2 separate regions of the Homo sapiens genome follow, and region 2 is linked to region 1. Evidence: fine-mapped expression QTL. A gene starts in region 1. The other region holds a variant in brackets. All regions are shown on one strand. Distances are from middle to middle.

Region 1 (2,927 bases):
TGATTGATACAGAAAAGGAGTCTACGTTGGCTACTTTTCTTTCTTTCTACAAACTTCATTCATTGGTGTGATCTGAAAGGGGATAATATTTCAGAAAGCAAAAATATTTTTAACAACAAAACTTTGTATTTCCAGTGTGATCTAAACACAAAATTATGCAAAACACAACTAATATTTCTCTCCTACTGGCTAAATCATGCCAGTTGTTTAGGTGCAATCAAAAATAAGCCACTAATGTTATTTTTATAGGAATTGGCAAGTAATTGCCAACTATAGCTATTAAAAGTTTATATTTGCCACAGGAGCCTGTGATTTTAAATACTGTTCAAATGATTTATGCTTGAGAGTTATACATAGCACAAATACATACATTTGTATCTACAGGTCTAAAGAGGAAAAATTAGACAAAAAGCAACTTGAAAAGGAACCCCTTTATTTTTAATGACCTACCTTTGTGCTGTATTGAGAAAAAGTATAAAAATTATTTGGGAGGAAGAAAAATATTTCTAAGCACTAATTTCATAGGCAAAAGCCCTATTATTTTTTATGATAGGCTAGGGGAAATCAATAATGATTTAAAAGCAAACAGTAAACTGCTCACATTTACCAGTCTATACTCAGTATTAATTCTACCCTGCAGTGTATGCTATAGAAGGTAATGAAATGCTGATGTTTTCTGGTTTTCCACTTCAATCTGCTCCAGCTTTATCCTAAACCTTGTCAGCAACAGAAGTTACCCCCCAGCAATCATACAAACCTAATAACGGCTTCCCTGGCTTAATTTGATCTGCTCCAATCACAAATTCCAATCCACATACTTTCTTCTGTTATGGTTGTGTCTGTATGTGTTTAATGTACTTTTTATAAGGCTTTTTTACAACAAGCGCATGGTTTTTCATTCAGCCCTCTACCACATAAACAGAACCACTGAAGAGCATTTTTGTTCATATAAAAATGTTTTAGTTATTCATAGTGTATGTCTTCAATTGGCTGCAGATTACAGTGAACAAAAGTATTGCTGCCATCATTTTACATTTCTCCTGTTACTGTGCCCTATCTGCTGTGTACCCCTGTCCCCAAAGCATTTATTATAATATTTGCTGCTTGCTCTCAGTTTTGGACTGAGATGCTTGGGGGTGGGAAAACTTAAAACTTGCCTGACTCAAGTGCTCTCTAAGCTTTGATCCCAGCATCCTGCTTTAACCTGCTCCTGTTGGACCTCTGCCACTTTACTGACCCCATAAAACAAACAGAGCTAGCAAATGCATCAAACAGCCTCCTTCAAAATGCAGCTTGACTGTGATTCATGGCACAAAGCTGGAATAACCCTGCCAGTTCTTAGAAGCTTTAAGATTCATCGTCTTGAACTTGATACACATAGTATAGCACCTTAAAAACGAATCATCTGCTAGTTCAGTATTTTCTACTTACAATCACTCCCTCCCAGGGCATGTAATTAATTTACTGAGCTTAAAAAAAAAATATCAGGATTACTCACACAGTCTTGAAGATGCAATGTCAGCTATTTAGGACAGAAACATCCAAGGCCGTGTCAGAACTCAATTACGACTACATATGCATTAAGGCAGGAACTGGCAGGCCTCAGGGTACGCCAACTATAGGACTCGTGCTTCTCGTACGCTGGGCTATAATCTATGAAACTGAGCTCCAGAGCCAGCCAATCACTTAGCTCCTCATAACAAGTCTAACTGGCTCTGGAAAGCTGAAAGGGCTGCACTGGAACAACACAGATGAGATATTCTACACATTAATCTACTTATCTGGAATCACTTTGCCTCTAAAGGCCAGAGAAAAATCACAGCTTCCTTGTCGGAGGGGAAAAGGACAGGTGATCTGGGGAAAACGCAGCTACACCTGGAGCAAGGTCTCTTCCCGGCTTGGCAATCTCAGCTGTGCCGGCGCTACGGGACCCGAGCCGTCCCAGAAACCAAAGGGCAGGCACGGCAGCAAACGCCTGAGGTAATTTTCATCTTTCTTTTTATTTTTAGTAGAATAATGCAGACTGAAAGTGATAAGCATAAAGTCGCTGAGGCAACTAGATATGCTTCGATTTTATTTTACATTTTCCTATTCTAATCGTGTGCAGGATCATTTGTTATGAAGTCTGAGGAGGGGGAGAATTAATGTACCTGAAATAAACTTGAAACTAAAACGATCATTTGTGGAGGAAAATACAGGATTTTCCAGAACAGTTTCAGAGCTACCTTTGCAGATGGGTAGGCTTTTCACCCACCCACAGAAAGAAGAGTCAACGGGGCTGAGACAGGACAGGGATGGGTTTCAGGAGCACAATTAAAAGTTTTTCGTATCTTAAAGAAAATATCTATGTTCAGAGAGAAAATTGAGAAGATAAGTTACTGCCCAGTTCCTCTGGTCTTTGACACTTAGACCACATAAGAATGTTCCATGGTAGAAGGGTTGGGACAGAGAATCTTAGGAATCCTAAGAGAGAATCAATACTGCTCCCCTACCCCAGGTTTTTCTTGTTTTCTTTACAATAGTATCCTTATTTCCCATTACATTTTAGTGTTAGTCATACCAATTACTTGTTACACCATACTTCTACATTTGCAGTTATTAAAGGATCTGCAGAAAACATTTTAAAGTCAAAATGATTATAGAGGCAACTAAAATAAGAAAGCAAAAAAATATGTGAAACTGACATACACATAACCAGAACACCACACCCCTTAGATACTTAATGTACTTAACCCAATGACAAATCCTTCCAAATCCTTAGCAAATTGTCTGTTTCTTTAATACATTTTGTAGCAAGTGTAACATTAGCAACGAAGAAAAACTTTGGCAATAAACTTGTACATAACTAAATCAATCCTTATGCTTTCATAGTGACGATAGAATATACATAATATTTTATTTGTTTTGTTGGACTTATAAAATCCTAA
Region 2 (2,927 bases), 54 kb after region 1:
GCAGACTATGTTCTTGCTGTGTATAACTGTTCCCTCCCTGTGAAACTTATTTCCCCCAACCCCTGCTTTCCGTTATGTTTGTCCTTTAGAATCTTTGGTACCAGCAGCATCAGCATCACATGGCAGCTTATTAGAGATGCAGAATTTTAGGCTCCTCCCCAAGCCCCAGAAGCAGCACAGGAATCTGCATTTAACAAGATCCCCAGATATTCATATGCACATAAAATTTGGGAAGCACCACTGTGGATCTCAGTTCAAGCACCAATTTGCTTCACTGATCAATCACATCAGGTTCCTGTTACGCATACTCATAAAATGATCCTTCAGAGCTCTCGCTCTGTAGCTGTGCATTTATTATGATAATTTTTTTCCTATTCCTGTGTATCTCTCTCACTAAACTAGTGTCAGGCTCTATGGCTTATCCCACAACCAATCAATAAATATTTGCCAAATGACTAAATGGATGTGCAAAATTCATATTTGTATCTGAGTATTTTTAAAGCCAGTTGGCACTGCCCATTCTCCTGCTAGTGGTCTCCCTGCCTCAGACTCATCCATGACTGCATCAGCCTTGGACTCCTCAGCCCAGCTCTCAGACTGGCCCTTCCAGAAGTGAGTGAGTAAATGAAGGAAAAAATGACATTGCTGAAAAATCCAAGAAATTTCATCATTCAGACCGCAGTTCCTCAACATCTCACATATCTGTAAATGCCACAGAGAGATTGTTTCCTGAGTGCTATTTTGGAAAATATAATCACGATTTTTGTGTGGGAAGAAAAGACACTCCCCACAGACATCAGAGCAGACACATCCCCCCAGCCCTAGTCCACAGAGGGTATATTGCAGGAAAGTCTTACTGAAAGAAAGAGGGGCTACAACAGGGCTGGATGGGTGCTGAAGATGCTGAACTCAGGCAATGGAATTGCTTTTGTCAGTTGCCCTCACCAGGTGTGGCTGTATGACTGAAATTGCCAGTCTCCCCTGCTGGTGGTAGGGACTGTTTTGATTAACCAAGTAGAAGGTGACGGTTTAAAACTAGTTTCCCAATTTGGGTAATTAAACCTCTGCTAAATATAGTAGGTTTAAAATGAATGTTCACAACATTGAAACAGAACATGCTAATTCTAAAAATACAGACTCCCTTGCTGTGAAAGACCTCTCAGGGGAGAACCGACATTGAAGCAAAACAATGATTTCATCCCTCCCGCCCACCATCCCCCA[G/A]CCTGTGAACCAATTTGTTTGAAGAGATGAGGCTCACCACACTACAGCAAAGGAACCAGAGCTGTTACCAGACACTAAGGAAACTAATCACAGAAAGTCAAAGGAAGAAAGGTTACAAGGCTGAAATTTCTTTTTGTGGGATCCTGTCCTGCACCAAAACAGGCCAACCAGCACTTCTTATGTCTACTCCATACAAGGTATATAAAACTCAAGTTAGTGGGGAAAGGAATTTTCATTAAGTCACTTAGAAATGAGAGACATGCAAATGAGAGAAACTGACTTTCTTTGAAGAAAGTGTAAACTTTCTAGGAAGCCTCTTTCCTGAATAATTAAATCACAGAGAACCTTGACTCTCTGTGGACTCAAAAGCAATTACACCCAGTTCTTAAACAGAGCTGTTCCCTCATCATAAAATCCCCTGTGCATTTCCCTCTGTATAACAACAAATGGTCCACAAACCTCCTTCAAAGAGTTGTCCTCACTTGGTGACTCCACTTCTCTCCCTGTTCTCTTTTATCTCATTCCAACCACAGAAAAAGCTTGTATTGAGGTCACATGCCTTCATGTTGCTCAATCCAGTGGTCAGTCCTTTCATATCAGCAGCATGTGACAAGACTAATGACTCCCTGCCTGAAAAATCTTCCCTTTTCATTCATTTGGCGTTTAGCCTACCATCCCCTCTTCTTTGTACTCTGACCTCAGTAGGGACGACTTTGCTGGAAAAGAAATTTAGAATTTGATTATGTGTGACCTAATCTCCAGTACCCATGTATTCTATTTTTGAAAGACTTGAATTTTCAATTATATTTGTAACAAAACCGTGTATGTGGAAATGATGGAATAACAGCCTCTTTTTTTCCAAGATGATATGTGCATCTTCAGACCTTTATACAGATGAGCTCTTTACCTCCATCTTCTAAAACTATTAATTAATCCAGAGAAGTGTGTTGCTATAAAATATTCTGTGAAGCATTTTCACTTATTTTTCTTTTCTTTCAAAGAAAACAATATGGCCCAGTTCCTGGCTTTTGAAGAACTAGAGAAAATCATCATCATTGGTGCCTCCAAGGCTCTTTGGTTGGTTCTGCAATCATAGGAACCCTTACCTGGTCTCCTGAGACATTCTCCTCTCTCCACACCATAGTACAACACCACCCACACACCTGATGGCAGAGCTTTTAGGTGAGCTTCTCCATCTTCTGGCTTAGAGTTACCCAGGAATAAAGAATAGCTCCTGTAGCTCTGAATCCTTCAAATCCCCCGATTGGCCCTTAACTGACTTCCTTAGTGAATCTGCAGACTTTTGGATGGGAGACAAATATGCACAAACTATACCTACAATTCAATGTAGGACAAAGGCTACCTGGTACAATATTAATATGTGCCTGCATTGGAGATTTTGGAATCTTAGGACTTAAAGAAGGGTCTAATTCGATTACCTCAGTTCCAGATGAGAAAATGAAGGCCCAGAAAAGCAAGTGATTTGCCTAAGATCTCACAGTGACCAGTGAAGGACCAGAGCTGGACTAGGCTCTCCCGTCAGCAGTTAGGGCTCTTCCCAGTGTCCTTCCTCTTCCACATGCTACTTGCCCTTCACTTTATAGAGTCCTATCTTCTGCAGGGAAATGCATTGATACAGTCCCCTGTGCTTTGATCTTGGTGTTACAGTTACATCTCTAGAGGATTCTTATATAGCATAGTATGTT

Which allele goes with the higher level. Positions count from the first base shown, and alleles are read on the strand shown. Sizes are in standard deviations (SD) of each study's normalised expression.
For the expression in aorta of the gene that starts at base 1,270 in region 1, allele G in region 2 goes with a higher level than allele A (small effect, 0.25 SD a copy in GTEx).

The links.
Region 2: its variant is fine-mapped to the expression of PART1 in aorta (GTEx, PIP above 0.99).

What each region holds. Positions count from the first base shown.
Region 1 is chr5:60,486,444-60,489,370 of GRCh38, forward strand. PART1 (prostate androgen-regulated transcript 1) reads left to right here and starts at 1,270. Exons shown (of 4, transcript NR_024617.1): 1 at 1,270-1,980. It also overlaps a transcript of PDE4D not described here.
Region 2 is chr5:60,540,428-60,543,354 of GRCh38, forward strand. The region is part of intron 3 of PART1 (prostate androgen-regulated transcript 1); the gene reads left to right. Among named protein-coding and RNA genes, the nearest start is that of PART1, 54 kb to the left of the region's middle. The variant G/A (reference allele first, on the strand shown) is at 1,222.